Linked DNA regions of Homo sapiens. The protein of the gene in region 1 interacts with the protein of each later gene in a pairwise test. Each region holds a gene or a part of one and is shown in the gene's direction. Other genes may lie near its edges.

Evidence for each region.
Region 2: the proteins of ZNF488 (region 1) and LMNA interact in binary tests that used the Homo sapiens proteins (3 or more experiments, as listed by UniProt).
Region 3: the proteins of ZNF488 (region 1) and DR1 interact in binary tests that used the Homo sapiens proteins (3 or more experiments, as listed by UniProt).
Region 4: the proteins of ZNF488 (region 1) and APBB2 interact in binary tests that used the Homo sapiens proteins (3 or more experiments, as listed by UniProt).
Region 5: the proteins of ZNF488 (region 1) and GTF2B interact in binary tests that used the Homo sapiens proteins (3 or more experiments, as listed by UniProt).
Region 6: the proteins of ZNF488 (region 1) and RBPMS interact in binary tests that used the Homo sapiens proteins (3 or more experiments, as listed by UniProt).
Region 7: the proteins of ZNF488 (region 1) and KIF1B interact in binary tests that used the Homo sapiens proteins (3 or more experiments, as listed by UniProt).

What each region holds. Positions count from the first base shown.
Region 1 is NC_000010.11:47,370,794-47,374,293, reverse strand, and holds part of ZNF488 (zinc finger protein 488), read left to right. Parts: intron 1-3,500. UniProt on the Homo sapiens protein: Transcriptional repressor. Plays a role in oligodendrocyte differentiation, together with OLIG2. Mediates Notch signaling-activated formation of oligodendrocyte precursors.
Region 2 is NC_000001.11:156,121,211-156,124,710, forward strand, and holds part of LMNA (lamin), read left to right. Parts: intron 1-3,500.
Region 3 is NC_000001.11:93,352,407-93,355,906, forward strand, and holds part of DR1 (protein Dr1), read left to right. Parts: intron 1-1,501; coding exon 1,502-1,665; intron 1,666-3,500. UniProt on the Homo sapiens protein: The association of the DR1/DRAP1 heterodimer with TBP results in a functional repression of both activated and basal transcription of class II genes.
Region 4 is NC_000004.12:40,823,043-40,826,542, reverse strand, and holds part of APBB2 (amyloid beta precursor protein binding family B member 2), read left to right. Parts: intron 1-572; coding exon 573-656; intron 657-2,783; coding exon 2,784-2,899; intron 2,900-3,500. UniProt on the Homo sapiens protein: Plays a role in the maintenance of lens transparency, and may also play a role in muscle cell strength. Involved in hippocampal neurite branching and neuromuscular junction formation, as a result plays a role in spatial memory functioning.
Region 5 is NC_000001.11:88,864,068-88,867,567, reverse strand, and holds part of GTF2B (transcription initiation factor IIB), read left to right. Parts: intron 1-3,453; coding exon 3,454-3,500. UniProt on the Homo sapiens protein: General transcription factor that plays a role in transcription initiation by RNA polymerase II (Pol II). Involved in the pre-initiation complex (PIC) formation and Pol II recruitment at promoter DNA.
Region 6 is NC_000008.11:30,503,041-30,506,540, forward strand, and holds part of RBPMS (RNA-binding protein with multiple splicing), read left to right. Parts: intron 1-1,139; exon of another isoform or gene 1,140-1,245; coding exon 1,246-1,396; intron 1,397-3,500.
Region 7 is NC_000001.11:10,217,070-10,220,569, forward strand, and holds part of KIF1B (kinesin-like protein KIF1B), read left to right. Parts: intron 1-3,500. UniProt on the Homo sapiens protein: Has a plus-end-directed microtubule motor activity and functions as a motor for transport of vesicles and organelles along microtubules.

The sequences.
Region 1 (3,500 bases):
ATTTTTTGCCCTTTAGCTTGTCAAAATAATGTCTAAAAAACCAGATTGATCACAAAAGATGCATCATAATGCCACATAAAGATGTCACTCGGCGCCTTATAGTATTTAGGACCATAGAGGACACCTGGTGCAGCCTCCTCATTTTGCAGCTGAGCAAGATCTTTGAAGGACAAGGACCTGCCCAAGGCCATCTAGAAACACTGAAGTTGAGACTCATACCCGAGCATCTTAGCTTTTGCCCACCCCACGCTGTTTCTCAGTCTTAACCAGCAAGCTTTCCTTGTTATTTTGGTTTGTCTTACGTCTAGGTTTGATTTGGCAGCACATTTCAACATCTGGTGAAGGCATGGGAATAAAACAGTGTAGGTGGATGGAGCACCTAAGAGCAGAATGTTTGGTGTTCTCTCAGGGTACACTGGGCAAGGCCTGCTGGGCCGTCCTTCCTCGCCATGCTGCCTGCGTTTATTCAGTTAAGAAAGTGGCACATTTTGTATCTTTGAGAATGCAACTATTTTAGTTAGGAGAGTGATGTTCCGTCTATGGAAGACTTTGCCTCTCTCCATCTTGGGCTTGGAGAAGGTGTCCCATGTCCCAGCAGCATGGCTGTGTACAGTCATTGATTCTTTTGTTTACTTCTCCATGCCGTACATTTTGTTCCTGTCCCTTGATCACAAAGAAATAAATGAACGTTCCTGAGGCACTGACATGGGCCGGGTGAGGTGGGAGCCTCCTTCTAGATATTATTATCCTATTTAAATGCATTATGTTCCCACTCATTTCACGATTGCCCAGTATTCAGAGAAGTTGCATTACACAACTGAAGCTCCATAATAAATGCGTGGAGGTGAGATTCAAACCCACGTCTTTCCCATTCTACTTTTTGTGCCTTTCTGTTTTAATTTGCTTCTTGGTATTCCTGTGTATTATTAATAGTCTGAAGCTTGGAAATAGATGCAATAGTCATTAGAGTGAAGAAAATACAGTGCCGTGCTCTCTGAAGGATAACAAGGACATTTTTGTTGTAATTACTATTTTGATTTTTCTTTTAAGAATGTTGCCGAGGAAGGAAAACAGAGGGAAAAACCAGCAAAGCTCACTGTGTCTAACTTTTGCCACATGCATGGACCTAATTTCTTACTTGCCAAGCACTAGAGCCTTTATTTTTGAGACTCTGTGAGGGTGGCTGAGTTCTGTGTGTTTGCTGGGGTTGGAAAAATCTAGTGTGATGGGGGTCAGTGGCCCCATGACACGCCAAGGCAGAGTAAGCCACAGAGCTCAGTCTGCCATAGGTGTGGCTTCCTTCCTTCCTCACATCTGTGTCAACACCCGGCAGGAGGTGCCTGATTCCAGTGGGGATGAAGCAGCCTCTGCCCATCCCTCCATCACCCATCAAGAGCTCTGGACACACATGAGGTTGAACCCCCAGATGGTGGCTGCCAGGGGAGTGTGTCCACCTCTCACTTAGGCCAGGTGCGTGGCATCTCACTGCGGCAGGCATCCCATGGGCGAGGTCGGTGCTCTCCTGATGTCTTTGATATTTTTCTTTATCTGGCCTAGTCTGAGACCAGTACTTTCCCCTGCCTGTGACCCCTGACTTCATTTGCAAAGTTTTCTCATGCACTTTCTGAAATTTTCATGACAGAGAGCCCTGGAGGAATTTGGGGCAACGATGGAGGTGGAAGAAGGTTTAAAGCTGGGAATCTTTATGCATTTTCTCTGTTTTCTCCTTCTCTTTATTTTTTTTCTTGACCTATACTTCACACTGGTCTCTGTCTTCTCCATGCTTAGAAAGCAGAGGAGGCTTGAGCTTCCAGCAAAGACCTTGCGACATGTTACTGGATACAGGCTGGTGCATAGAAGGGGTGGGTGGGGAGGGCTGACAGGAGGGTGTCCCTCCCCTGAGCATCACCGGCTCTGTTCTTGGCCAGTTGCTCTTTGTCCCCACATTTCAGGTTCTCTTCCTGCATTCAAGCATGGGCAGGGCCAGGGCTGCTGTTTCAGGACTGCATCTAGCCCTGAAGTTTTCTCTGGGCCTCCACAGGGGACCTTCCTACTCTGAACTCCACATGCATTCTCCAGGCCACACTGCACACTCACCCTACTCTCCAGTCATTTCCAACTACTTAGAATTCAGTCAGTGTTGAGAGTCACCAGTCTTATGTAGACTGGAGCCTGGCACATAGTAGGTGCTTTTTGCATGTTTACTGAGTGAATGAATGAACAGAAAATGAAATGCACTTTGCCTAAAAGCTGATCTGATCTGATCTGAGTGCCCAGGCATTTCACCCTTCTTCCAAAGCTCTCCTTTTGTTCCTGTGGCCCAGGGAATGCTCAGTTCCAGGCTTGGCAGAGGAGGGGTCTCTCTAGGCAGTGTGAAACAGACTGTGAAGCCCCCATGAGAAATAGTCCACCCACTGGGAAGGCCCCTCCGCTCCCAGGAAACTCCAGCCAGAGCACTCCAGCGTGGGGGCTAGGACTCCTCTTTTCCAAAGGAGAGTAGACAGTGGGAGGAATTCACCTCAGAATGATTTCCTGGAGCAGTTAGGAAAGTAGCATCTCTGAAGTCACAGAGGCTTCAGCTCCACTGGGCCGTGAGAATCCCTTACAGAATTCTGACCCCGACCAAGCAGAAAAGGGCACTGCCGCCTTTAAAACAGTTGACTGCAGAACAAAACAAAATGCTAAAATAAGACTAGAGTAGTTTGAAAATATTGGAAAGTTGAGAAAAAACTCCCCCAAATTCCATGATACTAGCATCATCATAGTATATAGCACATTACATATATAGTGTATTATATGGTATATTATGTATACATACTATGTATACTATATGTTATATGGTGTATGTACATAGTAAAAATTATTTTTCACATATCTATTGCTTTGGTATGTTTTCTTTCATGTTTTTGTTTATTTGGTAGATAGGCTTTTTTCCTGTTTTGTTTTACAACATGTTTATATCTGACACTAACATTGTATTATAAGCTTTTTTTTCCCATACTATTGCGTAGTCTTTATAGCCACACTTAAAAAATGAATCATTTATTTCTAAAAACAGTCAGGTCCATTTTATTTTGGCTTCTGGATCCTGCCCCTCCCCGGGCACTCTCCCACTGCAGAACTATGTTAGGCTCAGTTCCCCAGAGAGCCCTCAGGTTTTCCACACCACAGGCCCCATGCAAGCTTCTTGTGAACCCTGGGCAGTCCCTTCTGGGTCCTCAGAGCTCAGTTTAGATGCCACCATTGCCTGTTTGCAACACTGGCACATGTGCAGGTCCCTGTGTTCTGTACAGCTGAACTCAGGACTGCCTCATCACCACTGTCACTACCGCGCCTCGCACAGGGCCCGCATGCTGCATGCTCTCAGTGAATGCTTGCGGAATGAACGGAAGAGGGAATCAATGAACAAATGACCTGGTGGTCATTTTCTGTGTTTCCTCCTGGGGTTTTTCCTTTGGTGTATGCATTTTGTGTGTGTGTGTGCATAGAATAGGTTACAC
Region 2 (3,500 bases), on another chromosome or scaffold:
GCTAATTTTTCTATTTTTAGTAGAGACCAGGTTTCACCATGTTACTCAGGCTGGTCTTGAACTCTGGGGCTTAAGCAGTCCACCCACCTTGACCTCCCAAAGTGCTGAGAGCCACTGAGCCTAGCCCAAATCCACGTTCTGATTCAAAGGGAAAGAAGAAGGGTGCAGCTAAACCTGGGGGGTGAGAAGTACTTAAAAAGCCCAAGAGAAACAAAAGAGAGAATAATTCCTCACTAGGACCCCCTATTGCCTTCCCACTATTGGTGCCCTTGCTTGGCACTTCCCCTGGCCTCCAGGAGTCTGAGACTTACTCTTCCATGGATGTGCCCATTGCCCCCACTTCCAGGTCCACCCCCCAGTGATTCGGTAGCTTAGTGTCTGCGCTGAAGCCCAGGACAGCTGGATGGACAACTGGTAGATCCCTTCACCTACCAACTGTGCTTTCTGCTCCCCTCCCCCTTGCTTCCCTCCTCCCCAGCCCCTCGCCACCCCTAGCAGCTGCAGCAGCCAAGACCAAGTCTTCAGAGACCCAGACACAAGGGCAGGGTTCATTCCATTCTCACCTCCTTGGGGTCCCAGTGTACTGATAGGCCGAACTCTAATATTATAGGAGATCTCTGGAAGATTGCAGGGTCTCTTATCCCTCAATAAGGGGCAAGGCAAGCCGGGCGCAGTGGCTCACGCCTGTAATCCCAGCACTTTGAGAAGCCGAGGGGAACAGATCACTTCAGGTCAGGAGTTAAGAGACCAGCCTGGCCAACATGGTGAAACCCTGTCTCTACTAAAAATACAAAAATTAACCAGAAATCGCTTGAACCCAGGAGGCAGATGTTGCAGTGAGCCGAGATCACGCCACTGCACTCCAGCCAGGGCGACAGAGCAAGATTCCGTCTCAAAAAAATAATACTAATAATAAATAAATAAATAAGGGGCAAGGTAGTCCACCAACAAAATGACAGGCAGTGTGATATAGTGGACACCCTAGCCCTCGGTGCCCTTAGTTCTGTGTGTGGCCCTTTCACTAAATTGCTGTGTGACCTTGAGCAAATCGCCTCCCCTTTCTGGCTTTCCTTAGCTGTAAAAGAAAGGGATTGGAGCGGAAAGTCTCCAGAGACCTTTTAGGTTCCAAAGTAGTACAGTGACCCACAAAGTGAGAAAACAGTCTTCTAAAATACCAAGTTATTAATAGTAAAATCAAATATAAATAATGTGAATATAGTTAATAGCTAATGTTGTTCTCAATAGAAATGTTTCCCACAAGCTGTGGAATTAAACATACTACCACATTTCTCTATTTCCCCGTGAAAGTTTGTTAGAAATGGTTAAATTGTGACATTACCCTCTTGGCAAATGTTTTGTTTTCATTGCTACTAGGAAAGGGCAACTCGTTTTCGATGCCTCTCCCTTCTGGACGGTGGAAAGGGCTGTGTCATAGAGTAGGAACGGGAGATGCGGCACAGGAATGGCTCCCATTGACCCGGGTTGGGGGCTAGGGCGAAGGCCTAGGAGAGGCAGAACTGTTACCTTAGAGCTGGCCAGGATTAGAGAACAGTGCCTGGAACCGGGGGGAGGGGCACGGTGACCTTGGGCTGCCCACCTTCTACCCTTCCAGCACCCATACTGGCTCCCCCAACCTGCGGCTGGGCTGGGAGGAGGTCTTGGCCCCTACCAATCCCTTAAGGAAGGGGAAAGAGTTTGGGAAGGGGAGTCCTCCCTTCACCCCTGCCTCCCCCAAGTTGTGAGAGAGGAAGCCGGAATCCTGCCTGCTGAAGCCAGGAATAATTCTGGCTGAGATCCCAGGCCCGGCAGGGGCGCTGAGTCATGGTAGAGGGCAGAGTGGAGAGTGGACAGGAGACCCTAAGCTTGTCCAGTCAGAAAAGCAGAGGCTGAGGGGTGGCCTTTTCTTGAGAACTACATTCAAGTTGCAGCAAGAAGGACAGTGGTCTGAATTTGACGGGGACAAATGGAAGGGAGATAGGACACATGAGTTCCTTTAGGTCTGGCTCAGGGGAGCTAGACTTCATTTCAAGGGGTCTAGGTTCTGGGCAGTTGAGAAGGAGGCTATTTGGGGTCACCAAGGCTCCCCTTTCTTCCCAAAGCTCTAACACTGCCACCTTCTGCTGGCTAGGAGAGAGCTGTGTCTTCTGAGGCTAGAGCTGGAATGCAGTGAGACCAGACTGCCTAGGTCCTCCCTCACTTCTTCTCCTGACCTTGGGGTGTGGCTCCCACTCTCTCCCAGTGTCCTCAGGGTTAATAACTATGTGCCACCAGATAGAGAGTTAAGGGGCTGCTGAATTGGCTTCTTGTGAAGGGAATCCCCTAAATGTCCCTCGTTTTGGTCACTGGCCTCCCTCCCGCCCCCTTCAGGACATTCTACTATCTTCTTAGGCCATCCCTCCCTCCTCCAGGCACTACTTCTTTTGCTCTATCCCCAAGCCCCACCCCTGCATTTTTGTGACAACACCGGAATGATTTCTAGAGAGAGAGGCCAGGAAGAAGGAAAGTGGCACTTGGCAGGAGACCTTGCAGGGGGCGGCTGGTGAGGAAGCCAGCCGCCCATTGTCCAGGACCCCAGTGCCCTGGCCTCCGGCCTCAGGCTTCTCCTGCCTCTGTACAATGCCACGTTGATACGCCCAGCAGCTGTGACTCAGGCCTGGCCCCCTGCCAGGCCCAGCACTTCTACTGGAGTTGCGTCTGAACATGTCAACAGGCTTCCTATCCCTCTCTCAGCACCAGTTCTCCCCACTTCAGCCCCTCCCTCTGCCTGGAATTAAAACCTGGCTTTGTCTTAGGGAAGGACAGCTGGGAGCCTAGTGGCTCTGGTAGGGGATCTGAGAGGCCTCAGACCCTAGGCATATTTGGCTGTTTGGCAGGTGTCACGCCCAAGGGAAGCGTGTGGAAGCAGAGCCATGCCTGCTGTGGGTGCACATGCCCGCGTGAGGGAGTCGGGGTGTTTCATCCTGGGGCACCTGTGGGCTTTTGAGGTGTATGATATTCAGAACTTCACAGGTTGGGGTTTGGGGAAGGCTCAAGGGGCTTCTAAGTCCCTGGAACAGCTGCCCCCCTCAGTTCCTCTCTCTCTCTCTCTTTTTTTTTGAGATGGAGTCTCGCTCTGTTGCCCAGGCTAGAATGCAGTGGCGCGATCTTGGCTCACTGCAAACTCCGCCTCCTGGGTTCAAGTGATTCTCCTGCCTCAGCCTCCCAAGTAGCTGGGACTATAGGTGCCCGCCACCATGCCTGGCTAATTTTTGTATTTTTAGTAGAAATGGGGTTTCACCATGCTGGCCAGGATGGTCTCAAACTCCTGACCTCGTGATCCACCCACCTTGGCCTCCCAAAGTGCTGGGATTACAGGCGTGAGCCACTGCGCCCAGCCTCAGTTCCTCTCTTTAAGGTCTCCTTTCCAGAGAGGGATAGCACCTCAAATGCCAGGGAGGGGAATTCTCCACATCCTGCCCTTACCCGAGTTGTGGCAGACCCACAGACTAGCCAAGAAACCA
Region 3 (3,500 bases), on another chromosome or scaffold:
CCTTTCTGAAGTTTTTAGGGAGGTCAGGGGAAGTGAGTTAACTTAATAATAGGACAGTACTATGCTTTTTGGCATCAGATTATTTCTAAAGAAGGTTGATGAAAACAGCTTAACATTTGAAATACTTAAAGTTGTAAATCATTCAAAATGTCTAAAAACCACAGTTTGCATGGGCATGTAGATTTGTAAAGGTGTTTTTGGCATTCTCCCAGAAGAGCAAATCCCTGAAGTTAGAAGTGAGAGCATGTATACTAAAAGGAGTCTGGTTCAACATAATGATTGAAAGACTTCAAGAACTGATGACTTAAATTGATTTACTGTTTTTTGCCACCTATGTTTCATCATTGGTTCACAATACAAAATATGCCTTTGGGGCATTAGTCAATATACCAAAACTATAAAATATAATTTTAAATACTATGACCCAAAAGGAAATTTTATGCCTTGTCTTTTCTGGATTACAGAAGGTATTTAGGGTGTGTGAATTTTTTTTTTTTTTTTTTTTTGAAACAGGGTCTTGCTCTGTCATCCAGGCTGGAGTACAGTAACGCAGTCATGGCTCGTGACATCCTCAATCTCCTGGACTTAAGCAATCCTCTCACCTCAGCCTCCTGAGTAGCTAGAACCATAGGCACGACCCATCACACTCGACTAATTTTTTTACTTTTTGTAGAGACGAGGTCTTGCCATGTTGCCCGCGGTGGTCTTGAACTCCTGGACTAAAGGGATCCTCCCACCTTGGCCTCCCAAAGTACTGGAATTACAGGCATGAACTACCATGCCTAGCCCATTTTTTTTTCCTTATAAAATTTCCTTTCTAAATACGAAAAGGGGAGAAACATTTTTATTAGTGCTTCTTGTATCTTTATAGTCTTTCAGCTACGTTTTTTTTGCCACATCATTTAAATATGTTTTTATTTTTCCTGTTAAGTTTTATTTTCAAGAGAAACCTGTTGGCTGACTATAAGTGCTGAATTTCATGACTTTTATTTCCACCAGTATTTTTTAAACTTGGCAGTTTGAGTATCTGCTAAAAATAGCTTCCTGTTGGTATATTGGACAAAAGAAAAACTTCTGTTCTTTTATTCTGTCCTACCAGAACTTAGTAGAGAATGTGTTACCAGCCTACTTTTTCTAAGTCAAATGACACAAAATGTTTTTTCTTACTAAAACCATATGTTCTTATAATGGGCTTTTTTTTCTTCCCTGCTTACAGGAAATGCTTTGGTCTTTTAAAAATTAGTCAGAATGAAAAGTGAAGGCATGTGCCTTGGTTCTTCAAGTTTTAACTGATTTGCCACCTAATATTTAGCAGATTGATAAAATATTTGTCTTGGCTGCCCAGACAGTTGTTGTACAACTATAAAATAGGTAAAATTATTAGAAAACAGCAAAACATTCCCCTCCCCCAAAGAAAAGCCCACAAAAACTTTAGGTCTACGGGTTGGGGGAAAGCTGTGTTTTATCACCCTTTCATATTTTAATATTTTCATTTCTCTAGCACTAGAAAGTTTGGGATTTGGCTCTTACATCAGTGAAGTAAAAGAAGTCTTGCAAGAGTGTAAAACAGTAGCATTAAAAAGAAGAAAGGCCAGTTCTCGTTTGGAAAACCTTGGCATTCCTGAAGAAGAGTTATTGAGACAGCAACAAGAATTATTTGCAAAAGTAAGTAATTTATTTAAATTATTTTCCTCTGAATCCTACCCTGTTTGCTAACTGAAATTGCTTCCTAAATTAACAGACATACCCAGAGGATTCCCTTTTTCTAGGTAGTTGATTATAGATTCTGGTGTTCAGAGCTGACCAATTTGACTCTGGTTTATGTGAAAGTAAATATTTGCAGCAATCTGTTCTAAAGAGAACAACTCCAAATACCTATTGAAATTTCACTTGATATTTTTTCAGACAGAATGACCATTTTAAGGCATGAAAAGTATACCTAAATATTCTTAAGATTTAAAATGATGAGCTGATGAGAAAATACTATATCAAATTTTATGATGCATGACATACCAGCAAAATCTGATTAATATCAACTGTGTAGTTAAATTAGGTCTTTAATATACACCTTTGAAGCATTTTAATCTTAAAAAATATTTTAAAGCTAGTAGAGCAAAGGGAGAAAATGTCTTCTTCCTTGCTTGTAATAATTCTAATATCTAGACTCTGAAGGATTAGAACCAAATACTAATGTTCTCTGTTTCAAAAAGAGAAGGGAGGGGAATTGGTGGCAATGCTGTGTTTTCCCTTCTAAGTTCTGGCCTCTCATTTGAAATTATAAGGCAGCTTTGGATTGAATAGAAGAGAAGCCGTAGTAACCATTAGAACTGGGAAGTATCATTTTAGGTAAACTCTTCCAGGTTAGTCCTGTAGCTGATCTCTCTGCAGCCATAACAATCAGTTTGGTTTACATCAAACTGCATTTTAGTCTTAAGTATTGTTGGTCACTAGACACCAAGTACCATTTAAACAAGATAAAAAGAAAAACTTACATTTATTGAGTTCTAACCACGTGTTAATCACATTGCCAAGTAATTTTCCTGCATTATCTCATTTAATCCTCCCAACAACCTATCATAGGCACTAAAGAGGAAAAGCCTTTGAAGCAGGCGTTAGTACATGCAATGTTATAATTCATATGAATATGAGGTACAAAAGAAGAGGTGTTGATGTTTTAAAAACATTAATGGCTATTTATTGATATTGCAGACCACCTAGAGAATGCTAAATTGAACATTTAGTGACAGAAGATTTTCTCCTGGATACTTTAAATACATAAAAACTTGGCAGAGTTTTTATGAAATATAAATTTTATTGTATTCATTTACATATTAAAAAATAGACTCAGAGGCGGAAAAACTTCCTTGAAATTGTTTGTCATTTGTTCTACAGTTACTTACTGAAGTCATTACTATTTACCAAGCATCATGCTAGGTGCTAGGCTTACAAGAGTGAACAAGGAGACAGGGTTCCTGTCATTATAGAGCTTAATCTACTGGGGAAGATTGAGTGGGAAAGATTGACTTAAATAAAACAGTAAGTTCAGAAAGTTAGGAAGTGTTGGAGTCTATATTTAAACTTAGGTATTTTGACCCAAAAGCCTGTACTGTTTCTAACATACCATGCTGATGCTCTAGCCTCCATTTTATATGCTTAAACTTATTATGGGGCTTTTAAATAGAATATGTATTATCCTTGCCAGGGCAAAATATAAAGAAATAATTGACTGCCTGCTATATCTGTCTTCACCTTTCTATCCCTATTATCTGTTTTTTTATTCCTCTTTTTTGTCTCCCTTGTTTCTTACCCTGACTTATGTATGAAGATCTCTAGTATTTCTTTACTATTGTGAGGATGACCAGCGGAGAGGTAATATTATAGCAGTTGCCTAGTACTTCTTCCCTAGAGCACTGAAGTTCTAAATATGAAAGAGTGGATAAGTAAATATATCTTTTTTATCACTTTCATTTTGTTTCATTTTTTAGACTTTAAATATTAAC
Region 4 (3,500 bases), on another chromosome or scaffold:
ATGGTGAAACCCTGTCTCTACTAAAATACAAAAAATTAGCCAGGTATGGCAGCATGCACCTGTAGAATTGCTAGAACCCAGGAGATGGAGGTTGCAGCGAGCCAAGATCGCACCACTGCACTCCAGCCTGGGCAACAGAGCGAGACTCTTGTCTCTAAAAAAAAAAAAACGTGGGTTGATTACTGGGGGAACTCAGTTATCTTCCTATGTCTCTGATTGTGCCCTTTGAGGTTACATTTTCTCTGGGCATCAACCACACCTAATTAAATAGGACACCAAAAGCTGCTACTTTACTTAATATACATCAAAGAGACAGTAGCAGCTTTAACACATAGATGCCACTTCCTGCTTTCACATGCATTCCTATCTTGAAAGTTGAACAGGATTTTAACAGAGCCCCAATATCTGGAGTAATGCTGCTCTTGTAGAATAGTTGTTACATTTACATCCAGAAACATAGGGCGTTATGGCACAGGGCGTGTCCTGAGCATTCAGATGATGCAGAGCCACGGCTGTTGTGTACATGTGTGTTGGAACCACTGAGAAAGATGTGTTGCTTTTGTTCCCTGTAGTAGATTTTCCAACACCAAAGACTGAGCTGGTCCAGAAGTTCCACGTGCAGTACTTGGGCATGTTACCTGTAGACAAACCAGTCGGTATGTGAAATGTTTATTGTCTTTCCACTTTGCAAGTGTGCGGGAGCTCACAGGAGGCGTTCGCCCTCCGAGGAGGGTGAGGTCTGCTGTTTACTCTCACGCCTTGTCTTGAATCAAACTGTCACACTGTCACCTGCCAGAGAACATAAACGGTCCTGATCAAAAGATGAGTAGAGGGACAGGCCCCGCTGCTTTGACCTGTCATCCCCAGCATGCAGGACTTTAGCAATACAGACGTGGATTTCTTGTTTACCCAGTAGTCCAGAGCTGTGTGACTCAGGGCCGTGGAAGAGCTCCGCTGCTCTGAAACGAGGCCTCCATCTCTGAGGCCAGGGCACCTGCTTCGTGTCTTGTCAGCTGGCGGGCCAGGAGAAAGGACTGTGGAGGCTTCATGCTGTCAAGGAGTGACACAGTAGTGGCACACACAGCATTCAGCTCACATGCCAGGGGCAGAGTGTAGTTGCTGGGCTATACCAAGCCAAAAAGAGACTGGGAGATGAAGCCTTCACCAGGGCTAAAAAAGGCTGTGGAGAAATCGCAAGCTACATATACTGCCAAGGGGGCTGTAAGATGGTGCAGCTGCTTTGGAAAACAGTCTGGCATTCTTCAGAAGGTGAAACATAGTTACTTTAGACCCAGCAACTCAGTTCCTAGGCGTAGACCCAAGAGAAGTGAAAACGTTTGTGCATGCAAAAACGTGTATGCAAATGTTCACAGCAGAATTATTGATGAGAGTCAAAAAGCGAAACAACCTGAATGTCCTGACAAATCAACTGACAATTAGATAAATAAGATGTGATACTTCCATACAGTGGAATTTTATTTGGCAATAAAAAGGAATGAAGGACTGAAGTGCGCTGTAGCGTGGATGAAGCCTGAAAACATGCTATGAGGGAAGTCAGTCCCAAAAGACTGCATACTGTGTGATTACGTTCATATGAAACGCCCAAAATAGGCAGAGCTCTAGCGTCAGAAAGTAGGTAAGGGTTGCCTTGGTCTAGGGGTCTGGGGAGTGGGGGAAAAATGCAGAATGACCCCTACCAGGCACGGGGTTTCTCTTTGGGGTGATGAAACTGTTCTAAAATTGATTATGGTAGGTCTAGCATGGTGGCTCACACCTGTAATCTCAGCACTTTGGGAAGCCAAGGCAGGTGGATTGCTTGAGCCCAGAAGTTCAAGACCAGCCCAGGCAACATGGCAAAACCTCATCTCTACAAAAAAAATTCAAAAAATTAGCTGGGCATGGTGGCATGTACCTGTAGTCCCAGCTACTCCAGAGGCCGAGGTGGGAGGATCATCTGAGCCTGGGAGGCTGAGGCTACAGTGAGCCGTGATTGTACCACTGCACTCCAGCCTGGGTGACAGAGCAACACCCTGTCTCAAAAAAAAATTGATGATGGTGATGGGTGCGCTCTGTGAATGTACTAAAATCCACTGGATTGCACACTTTACGTGAGTGAATTGCATGTGAATGATACCTCAATAAAGCTGTCACTCCCACCCCTATCCCCCAGAAAAACTGTGGAAACAGCTGGCAAAAGGGCCCTACTCAATGGGGGGATCCACTGTAAAGGTGCCATCAAGAGACAGTGAGGGTGGAGAGAGGCTGAAGGGCCATGGTCTGCATAGGTAGACAGCGTCTAAGGCACCAGGTCCCCGGAGCTTCTCCTGACTCTCCTCTCCTACTGAAAAGGCTGTTATTTCTTTTTTTTCTTTTTCTTTTTTTGTTTTTTGAGACAGAGTCTCACTGATACTTGCCCAGGCTGGAGTGCAGTGGTGCGATCTCAGCTCACTGCAGCCTCCGCCTCCTGGGTTCAAGCAAGCATGTCCAGCTAATTTTTGTATTTTTAGTAGAGACAGGGTTTCACCGTGTTGGCCAGGCTGGTCTCGAACTCCTGACCTCAAATGATCCTGGCTCAGCCTCCCAAAGTGCTGAGATTACAGGCGTGAGCCACTACGCCCGGCCAGAAGCTGGTATTTCATTCCTGTTGAGCAAACATGAGAATGAAGTGTCCTGTCTATTAAAAAAAGATCAGTCTGGGCGTAGCTGTTATTGGTGATTTGGGCCCACATTTGAGTGTGGTAAGTGGCTTTAGGACACTTTAAATTATCCTTTTCTGTCCCCAGGAATGGATATTTTGAACAGTGCCATAGAAAATCTTATGACCTCATCCAACAAGGAGGACTGGCTGTCAGTGAACATGAACGTGGCTGATGCCACTGTGACTGTCATCAGTGAAAAGGTGAGAAGGAATCTTCGATGACATTGGTGTGTCTTATACAGTGAGTATAAGATACAGTGGTTTTCTGTGGAACTTAGGAACATAGTCAAGGCCGGAGTTGTGCATCCTTGTGATTAAGATGGCCTACATTTGAAAGATTTGGCCCTTTGTCTGGGTCTAAATCTGTGCATACCTCTGTTTTCCTGTGGCCTGAGAAACTTCTCTTCTGGTGCTTCTGATTCTGTCTTCCTCATGTGCCCCAGAGAGAAATTGTTTGCTAGAGGTGAGTGTGTGACGCTAGTAGTCGCTCACTCTCAGGGCGCCAGTATTGCCTGGGCTGTGTGATCTGGGGATGAAAAGCAGAAGATGCTTCCATTTGGGAGAGTCCTGTGACTATCAGTAGCAGAAGGAGCTATTGGTTGTCTTGAGAAGAGGCCACATTAGCCTCAGCCCAAATTATCTCAGTTTCGTGGTTGAAGAAATTGAAGCACAGAGAGGCTAAGTCATTTGCCCAGCATCACACAGTTGGAAGCAATGGAATCAGGACTTAAATCCAGGCAACCTGGCCCAGACTTGTGCCCACTTTTCTATTCTGCCTCTGTGAAGCACCTGCCAGGGAAAG
Region 5 (3,500 bases), on another chromosome or scaffold:
ACATTTGTTGATTTTTTTTAGCTTAAAATTTAGTAACTCTGGGTTTGAAGGCCACGGTTATTTTTGTTCTATGCATGTTTGTGTTTTTATTTTGCCAAATAGGAAAGTTAGATTGTCTTTTCTGTCTTTGGACATAAGTGCATGGGAACACCATGGTATCACTTTAATTGGTGGATGCTATTAAAGGGACTAAATTCTGTCTAAAAATACCATGCTGGTGTTTATGATAAATTTAATGAAAAGAGCTTGTCATGAAACAGGCACAGTATCTAAATTTTAGGAAAACGTAGGTGCATACATATGAACGAAAAACACAGAGCATATATGAAAATATAGTGGTCATTGGGTATTGGGAATGCAGGTAATTTTTTTCTAACGTATCTTTTAGTGAGCAAATATTTTGTAAAAAGGAAGAAAAATTGATCTCTTTAGTGTGATCTCTTTGAGACATGGGCTTGTTGGTGAATAGTACTCACTGCACAGTGGTTTGGTAAGGTTTCAGTGCACAATGACAATTTATGATACTTTTAAGTATCTTTTTAAAATCTGCATAATTCAAACTGCTTCCTAAGTTTAGTGATGTTTATTATGAGGAAGAGGAAACAGATAAATCCTTGTAATGCCATCCATCTAACGCTTTTCTCCTTGTTTCGGGCCACCTGCTCAATGTGTGATGTATTAAAATTGCCTTCTAACTTACTGTCCTGCTTCTGCCTTCCTTGCGTGTTCTCCTTGCATACAGGGATGGCACATGGGAACTCTGCCTCTAATCTCAATCCCTTTGTAATGTGGACACATGGTAGTCCAACTGATAATCCGCTTTTACCTTGGTGATTCAGTTGTTTAAAGAAAAGTTTTTCTGTTGTGCATGGTGGCCCACCCCTGTAATCCCAGCACTTGGGGAGGCCGAGGTGAGTGGATCACTTGAGCCTAGGGGTTCACGACTAGCCTGGGCAACATGGCAAAACCCCATCTCTACAAGAAATACAAAAATTAGCCAGGCAGGCAGTGGTGGTGCATATCTGTAGCTGCTCAGGAGGCTAAGGTGGAAGTATTGCTTGAGCCCCAGAGGCAAAAGCTGCAGTGAGCCAAAATTGCACCACTGTACTCAAACCTGGGCAACAGAGTGAGACCCTGTCTGAAAAAAAGGAAAAGAAAAAAGAAAAATTTTGTCAGAGGCTTCAGAAATGAATCATTCTCTTGAGCATTTGCTTACTTTAGACAGGGTCTCCCTCACCTAGGCTGGAGTGCAGTGGTGTAATCATGGCTCCCTGCAGCCTCAACCTCCTGGGCTCAGGTGATCCTCCCACCTCAGCCTCCCTACAGGCACATGCCACCACGCCCAGCTAATTTGTTTTTGTATTTTTTTGTAGAGACAGGGTTTCACCATGTTGCCCAGGCTGGTCTTGAACTCCTGGGCTCATGTGATTTTCCTGCTTAAGCCTCCCAAAGTGCTAAGATTACAGGTGTGAACCACCATGCCCAGCCTTTTTTTAAATCTATCACTAAGATTATATGATCACTATACTCTGGTTGTTTATGAGCATTTAAATTAATTTTTATATAAAAAATTAAAAAGTTAGCATAGTCTAGGTGGAATTCCTTCCGTTTTCTCTGTTCTTTGCTGTCCTCCTGATCAAATACTTAGCGGAGCACTTGGAAGCTTTTAAAGTCTTCTATGGAGATTAATTTTTGTTTGTTTGTTTGTTTTGTTTTGTTTTTTTTTTGAGATGGAGTTTCACTCTTGTTACCCTCTTGTTGCGATCTCAGTTCACCACAGCCTCCACCTCCCAGGTTCAAGCAGTTCTCCTGCCTTAGCCTCCTGAGTAGCTGGGATTACAGGCATGTGCCACCACGCCCAGCTATTTTGTATTTTTAGTAGAGACAGGGTTTCTCCATGTTGGTCAGGCTGATCTCAAATTCCCAACCAGGTGACAGCCCGCCTGGACCTCGCAAAGTGCTGGGATTACAGGCATGTGCCACCATGACCAACTAATTTTGTATTTTTAGTAGAGACGGGGTTTCTCCATCTTGGTCAGGCTGGTCTCAAACTCCTGACCTCAGGTGATCCGCCTGCCTCGGCCTCCCAAAGTGCTGGGATTACAGGCCTGAGCCACCACACCCGGCTGGAGATTAATGTTTTAAACTGATGCGTCTCCCTTATCATCCCCACAAAAAAGGAGAAACTCAGAATATTTGCTATCTTTCTAATTTTCATAGCAGTAAATAGTGAATATTGAGCACTTAGTACTACTTTTTAAGCACTTTACATGCACTGTACATGGGTATTATAATAGCTTAGTCTTTATAATCTTTAAAATATGAGGTTAAAGAGAATTTTAGAGCTGAGGTAATAAAGACATAGAAATGAAGTAATATTCCAAGGCTAAGCAGCAAAGGGCAGAGTTCACACCCCTGACTATTATATTAATTGACTGCTAGTACCGTAACTTCTAATTGCTACAGTAACTGGTTTCTGCCGTTTGTTTCTTTCTGTTTGCTGTGTATACACAAAGATGAAATGGTCTGGTTCCTTCCTACTTTCAGCTTCATCACACTTCACTGAAAAAGGTCATGTTTTACAATTGGAGTGTAGAACAAACTCTGATGTGCGTTTCAGTTCTAGCTATGTGATCTTAGGCTAGTTAATCTTATTTGTAAAGTGGCAATAAAATTGGTACCTACCTTTATAAGGCTGTGAAGATTAAGTGAGAACATTTACAAAAGGGCACAGTGAGTAGTATGTGTTAAGTATTCAGTGTTAACTTTTGTCTACTCTGAAGGTATTGCCAGACATTGAGCTTTCTCACCAAAACAGTAATAATAAGGTTTACTTGTGTCTGCTTTTATTGGACATGATATATTTAGATGCTGCCTCTTTGCTTAAAGAGAAAAGTTTGCCTACCAGGCTTTCTTCTCACGGATTCTAGGCTTGAGGTTTATTCTGTATAAATTATTTGGCCAGGTATGTTTTTCATCAGATTGTTACTTTGAAACAGAAGCTTAGGCTTATTTTCTGCGAAGCATTTCCCACGCAAACTTAGTGACATTTTAATATGAAATTATTTGCATTAATACCATTCTAAAAAATGTTTTCTCTTTTTTTCCCATGCCTATTGCAAATTTTGTGCAAAATCTGGTTCTTAATCATTATTACATTGGTTTACCTTTGCATCACATATGAATAGCTGTACTTTGCTACTTTTGACTAATACTTTTTCTTCCAAGAGTTAGAATATCATAGCATAATGTTTCAAGAGGATTATTGTTAGATTGGCACAATAGTTAAAGGAATGCTTTAGGACAAATGTCTGAAATGTGATATTTAAGCTTGGTCCTAGATGTCCATGTTGAGATTTCCTGGGAATAAAATGGCTTAGTTGGGCATTGGACAGTGTAGTTAAGTAAACCCTATCTTGACAAAATGATTCAGATATGTGCTTATATTCTTAGGTGACCGGGTTATTGATGTGGGATCTGAATGGCGAACTTTCAGCAAT
Region 6 (3,500 bases), on another chromosome or scaffold:
GAAGTTCCACCCACTCCAAGACTTCTGGGTCAGGGCTCTGTGGCTTTTGTTAGGCCTCCCTAAGGACCTCTCTTTCCTTCCCCTTCCCCCCTTGTTTCCTGTTAATGCCATTACCATCCAGCCACAGGCTCTTCCTTGTATACTTGAAGCTGAGCCTGTGAAGTTCAGAGTTGTTCATCCTGGTCTCTAGAGTAAGAGAGTCTTGTTTTTGTGGATATTTCTTTTTTTGAGACAGAGTCTAGCTCTGTCACCCAGGCTGGAGTGCAATGGCGCGATCTTGGCTCACTGTACCCTCTGCCTCATGGGCTCAAGCAATTCTGTCTCAGCATTCCAAGTAACTAACTGGGATTACAGGTGCATGCCGCCACGCCCAGCTAATTTTTTTTTTTTTGTATTTTAGTAGAGATGGGGTTTCACCATGTTGCCCAGGCTGGTGTTGAACTCCCGAGCTCAGGCAATCCACTCGCCTCGGCCTCCCAAAGTGCTAGGATGACAGGCATGAGCCACAACGCCCTGCCTGCTCTTATTTTTTTTCAAGCTCATTAGGAAGAATGGTGGCGAGGGGGCGGGGGATGCTTTGGAGCCCTCAGGCCCATGTGTGTACATTCAGAACACTAAATGGCAACTGTGTTCTTAGGAGACTCGTTTTCAGGACTCCAGTCCCTTTCCAGACCACACCATGAAAACATGGGAACTGAGTGGGTCCCATGGGTGCACATTTAAAATACACTCTCTTGGGATATCTTTTTGACACGTAGGGTCCAGAATTCATGGTATTGGATGCTTAATAATGAAGACATTCTTGAATGGTGGAAAGGTTCCAAATAGACTTGTCTTGCGCTAGTGTCTTTCATAGTGTCTGTGATTTGTTTTACTGAATATAATCTATTTTAGGTAAACTGCAGGAATAGGGTCAGAGGTAACTGAAATTACTATATATTAAAGTGTGTAACTGTGCTAGGAATTTGCTGGTTCAAATTTTAAACTGAAAAGTTTTTGTCTAAAAAGAAAAGGAATAGTTGAAAATCTGTGTAACTACATTTTTTAACTAAACTAAATCCCACTGACTTTCGGGACACTTTGTGTTGTCATTTTTCATGTAACCTGTGTAAGTAGTAAGAATGAGAGTGGTTGCTGACCTTTTTTCCTGATAGACCAGGGTTTACTGGTGTGTTTATTTTGTCACCATTCCGGTTTGACTCAAAGGAAATGAAAACATCTTCCATTTGTTCTCTGTTTCCAAAGGGCATCCGCTTCGATCCTGAAATTCCGCAAACACTACGACTAGAGTTTGCTAAGGCAAACACGAAGATGGCCAAGAACAAACTCGTAGGGACTCCAAACCCCAGTACTCCTCTGCCCAACACTGTACCTCAGTTCATTGCCAGAGAGCCATGTAAGTCGATCTACTTTTCATTCAAAAGTAATAATAACTAAGAACTGTTCATGTGCTGCATGTGAGGTTACACCATGGGACATGGAGCTGGCTGAGTCTTATTTTCCATTTCTGTGAAGAGGTTGCCTAGGCGTTCTTGGTGTCAGAATTCCAAATACAGCAATCTTGTTTGTGATTGGCTTCCCAAAAGATGGTTCAGCTTGAATAGAACCATAACTTCAGAATATCATTTGATGTACTACAGATTTCCTTAATGTTATATTGACCATCATGAGTATGCCCCTAGTTGCCTTGGGTATAAACCCTTCATTCCCCCCTGCTCGGACACGAGAGCTGGTTCTCAGCATTTACTTTAATCCATTTGTTGAAGGACATCAGCTCGGTGGCTTTGGAAAAATAGGATATTAAAAGAGAAAGAAGCAGATCTTGGGAATTTGGTTCTATTCAGTTTAGCCATAACTCTAGGGGGAAAAGTAAACACATACAAAGAATGTATATATTGGAACTGTCAGTCTAGCAAACTAATACCAGTAAAACTTTAAGGAAATTTGGGGCTTTCTTTTCCAACTTAATTGGATAAGGACACTGGCTAATTGCTCAAGACGTCTTCTACCCCACATTAATAAGCTTATTTCATTATATGTCCAGACTACCATTTCTGCCTTTCCCTGAATAACTTTAAAAGATTGAATTTGCTTTCTCAAGCTCAGTCAGTGGCAGAAGTGGGGCATGAGACAGGCCTTAACTTCTCCTTTCATTGCAGAGCCATATGTGATTTAATATGGCAGGGCATTCAAGGAAACCCAAGTGACTTGGATTCCAAGTTATTTGGAATATTTCTGTCCTGTTGTTTTTGGTCTGCTTTCTAAACCACACGGTTGTGATCTTCTTCCTTCGATAGTACATTTTAACTCTTCTTATTGAAATTGAAGGACACATGGATTCCTTGCTCCCCCCATGTCATGTGCATGTCAGATTTAATCAGGTTATCTTTGGAAGTCACAGCCATTCTGTAGTTCAGTCACTCTTGGTACTCATCAGTAGAAACTAACAGATAAGTCTCCCTGAATGTTCTAAAATAAATGTTTCTATGAATCCAGAAAGTCATAATAGATTAAAAAAAATTATTTTGTTCTTTCACCTTCTTTGTCCCAGGGAAACTAGAAACCTTTGCTTATTTGGGAAGGAAATCTAAACAAAAGTTACATCTTACAGTGTACTTGTAGTACAGGAGGATATAGGAACATCTTTTACATAATTCTTCATCCTTATAGTATCTAGCTTAATACTTTGTATATTGTATATATTTAATATTTATTATAGTGAGTGGATAAATTGATACTGAAATTGGGCTACTTGTAGAACTGTAGATGCATTTGTATGCCTCTTCTCTCTGAAATTTCTTCTCTCTTGATCAAGGCATCAAAAAAGAGTATTTTTAGGATGCCTGATTTAGTAAAAATAACCTAAAGTAATTCTTTGCCTTTTTAGTGAATTTGCCAGCCTCAGATCTCAGAGTTCTTTGAAAAGATTAATTCAGGCAGGAAATGTAATGCTGGTGATACTTAACTTTACCTTTTCAATTCTTTGCTGAATGCTCTTTTTAACAGGACCACGAAACTTTTTCTGAATTTCCTACAACAGCCCTGTGAAATAGGTAGCCAGGAAGGTTGTAGCCAGATTACGACATGCTATACAAAAGCAACAAATAGGAACAAACTGGACATTCACAAGTCCCTGAAGTTACAGGAGAGCATAGAAACTGAGCTTAGAACTCTTTTCTGGCAAGCTCTGCTCACCTCCCTTCCCAGCATACAGAACAGTGCAAAAATGGCCAGATAGTTTCCATGACAGGGTAAAAACTTGCCCAGCTGTTCACAGCAACACAAATTTGAAGTTTAAAAAAAAAAAAAAAAAAAAAATCCAAGCAGCCAGCAGTGTATTCTTGAGGAAAATAAAAGTCAGCATGATTTATCTTAATATAGCTCATTTTTACGACACAGCATCTTGAGGAGAGCAAGTCCACTATGGCTCAGGTCAACCTTATTATCCATTGCCATTCCCTCTGGGAACTGGGAACTTGACCGTCACATACAACTTGCTT
Region 7 (3,500 bases), on another chromosome or scaffold:
TTCAAGTGATTCTCCTGCCTCAGCCTCCCAAGTAGCTGGGATTACAAACGTGTGCCACCACGCCCAGCTAATTTTTGTATTTTTAGTAGAGATGGGGTTTCACCGTGTTGGCCAGGCTGGTCTCAAACTCCTGACCTCAGGTGATCCGCCCGCCTCTGCCTTCCAAAATGTTGGGATTACGGGCGTGACCCATTGTGCCCAGCCTTTTCTACTGTTCTTGAACACACCAGGCATAGTCCTACCATAGGGCACTTGCTCTTACTCTTTCTTTTTCTTTTTTTTTTTTTTTTGAGACAGCCTTGCTGTGTCTCCCAGGCTGGGGTGCAGAGGCACAATCTCCTGGGTTCAAGCAATTCTCCTGCCTCGGCCACCTGAGCAGCTGGGATTATAGGCACCCACCACCAAGCCCAGCTAATTTTGTATTTTTAGTAGAGACGGTGTTTCACCATGTTGGCCAGGCTGGTCTTGAACTTCTGGCCTCAGGTGATCCACCTGCCTCAGCCTCCCAGAGTGCTGAGGTTACAGGCGTGAGCCACCGCACCCAGCTGCTCTTACTCTTTCTTCTGCCTGGAATACTTTTCCCCTGAAATCTGCTTGGCTAACTCCTTTACCTCTTTCAAGTCTTTGCTTAAATCTCAGCACATCAGCAGGCCCACCCTGACCTCATTTATGCACCTGCACAGCAATCCTTCCCACCACCACAATCTTGAACCCCCTGACTTTGCTGTACTCCCCCGTGATGCTGATTACATTCTCGATTCTCTATACCTGATTTATTAATTTTAATGTCCTCCCTCTCCCTACTAGAATGTAAATTCCTCCATGACAAGGAGGTTTGTTTATCTTTTTTGTTCACGGATTATTTTTCCCAGGAACTGCCTGTTGCATTGTAGGCACCCAGTAAATAGCTATTGAATAAAGTATAGAAATGTGCAAGTCTTTCCTATTACAAATAAAGGGCTGGGGGGAGGAAAATCCCTCCTTCGTTTCTGTTCCTTCCAATAAAATCCTTCATTCCTATTTGCTCTCTCCTGCTCATCATAGCCAGGCTCTGACAGTGTCATGGATACTGGCATTTCCCACTTCCGTGCCAACCCACTACAGGCTGGCTTCAGTGTCCCCTCCTGCCCCCCACTTCATGGATACTGCCCTTGCTGTGGTTTCCAGCCTTTATTGCTGAAACCAGGAGGCACACTTCACACTTTTGCAGTACTAAGTATGTTACTCATTTTGTTTTTTTCTTCCTTGAACTTTTGGCTACTTCTGTTTGTGGGCTGGTTTCAGTCTTCTGAAACTGCTGTTTTTCTGGCTACTCACATGGCTATTAAATTCATTCAACATAAATCTTTGTGCAACTTTTTTTTTTTTTGAGACAGAGTCTCGCTCTGTCATCCAGGCTAGAGTGCAGTGGTGTGACCTTGGCTCACTGCAACCTTCATCTCCCGGGTTCAAGTGATTCTCCTGCCTCAGCCTCCCGAGTAGCTGGGATTACAGTCATGTGCCATCACACCCAGCTAATTTTTGTATTTTTAGTAGAGACAGCGTTTCATCATGTTGGCCAGGCTGGTCTTGAACTCCTGACCTCAAGTGATCCACCCGCCTTGGCCTCCCAAAGTGTTGGGATTATACGCGTGAGCCACGATGCCCAGCCGATCTTTATGTAACTTTTAAAAGCTTGCTGTGTCGTTTGGTTTTATTTGTTTTTAGGAACTAGAACTTTGACTACACAACATATTTACAGTGTTAAATAGCAGAATAGGCTATTACAGGAAGTTTTTATTTATTTATAATTTATACCAGTTACTACTTCTAGAAAGGATTTGAGCAGCTTACCACAAATATATACAGTGAAGCTATTAAAATATAAATAAGTAAAAATTTATGTAACAAGAAAAACTAAATGTATAGGTTGCCTCGGCTAATGTGGTTATTGTAATTTAATTTGGAAACATGGAATTTAATGCAAAAAGGGAAAGATAAATTGTACAATTTTCACTCTGGTAAAAGAAAGCCTAATAGTTTGTCGAGAGAAACCTTTTTTCCTAGTATTAAATTCTAAAGATGTTCTAAGAGAAAATTGTTATAAACATCCTGATATAAAGATACGTACGGCCGGGCGCGGTGGCTCATGCCTGTAATCCCAGCACTTTGGGAGGCCGAGGCTGGTGCATCACTGAGGTTGGGAGTTTGAGACCAGCCTAACCAACATGGAGAAACCCCATCTCTACTAAAAATACAAATTTAGCCGGGCATGGTGGTGCATGCCTGTAATCCCAGCTACTTGGGAGACTGAGGCAAGAGAATCACTTGAACCTGGGAGGCGGAGGTTGCAGTGAGCCGAGATCATGCCATTGCACTCCAGCTTGGGCAACAAGAGCAAAACTCCATCTTAAAAGTAAAAAATAGGCCAGGCCTTATGGCTCACGCCTGTAATCCCAGCACTTCGGGAGGCCGAGGCAGGCGGATCACCTGAGGTCGGGAGTTTGAGACTAGCCTGACCAACATGGAGAACCCCATCTCTACTAAAAATACAAAAAAATCAGCTGAGTGTGGTGGTGCATGCCTGTAATCCCAGCTACTCGGGAGGCTGAGGCAGGAGAATCACTTGAACTCAGGAGGCAGAGGTTGTTGTAAGCTGAGATCGTGCCATTGCACTCCAGCCTGGGCAACAAGAGTGAAACTCACCTCAAAAAAATAAAAAATAAAGACTTACTAGGGCTGGGGACAGTGGCTCACACCTGTAATCCCAGCACTTTGGGAGGCCTAGGTGAGAGGATTGCTTGCGCCCAATAGTTCGGTATCAGCCTGGGCAGTGAAGCAGGATCTCATCTCTATTAAAGATAAATTTAGTGGATGGGCGCGGTGGTTCATGCTTGTAATCCCAGCACTTTGGGAGGCTGAGGCAGGCGGATCACCTGAGGTCAAGAGTTCGAGACCAGCCTGACCAACATGGAGAAACTCCGTCTCTACTAAAAATACAAAATTAGTTGGGTGTGGTGGCACATGCCTGTAATCCCAGCTACTCGGGAGGCTGAAGTAGGAGAATCACTTGAACCCGGGAGGTGGAGGTTACGGTGAGCCGAGATCGCGAGCCATTGCACTCCAGCCTGGGCAACAAAAGCGAAACTCCGTCTCAAAAAAAAAAAAAAAAATTAGGTAGGTGTGGTGGCATGTGCCTGTAGTCCCAATAACTCCAGAGGCTGAGGGAGGAGGATTGCTTGAGCCTGGGAGATTGAGGCTGCAGTGAACTGTGATTGTTCCACTGTACTCCAGCCTGGGCAACAGAGTGAGACCCTGTTTCAATAGATAGATAGATAGATAGATAGATGATAGATAGATAGATAGATAGATAGATAGATAGATAGATAGATATGTACTAAATGTTTTCAACAGCTTCTTTAAGTAAAAGGAAGAAATGTTCTTCAAATACCTTTACAAAATAAAATAAAAAATAAACAGGGCAGTGATGCATGCCTATAGTACCCAGCTACTCCTGAGGC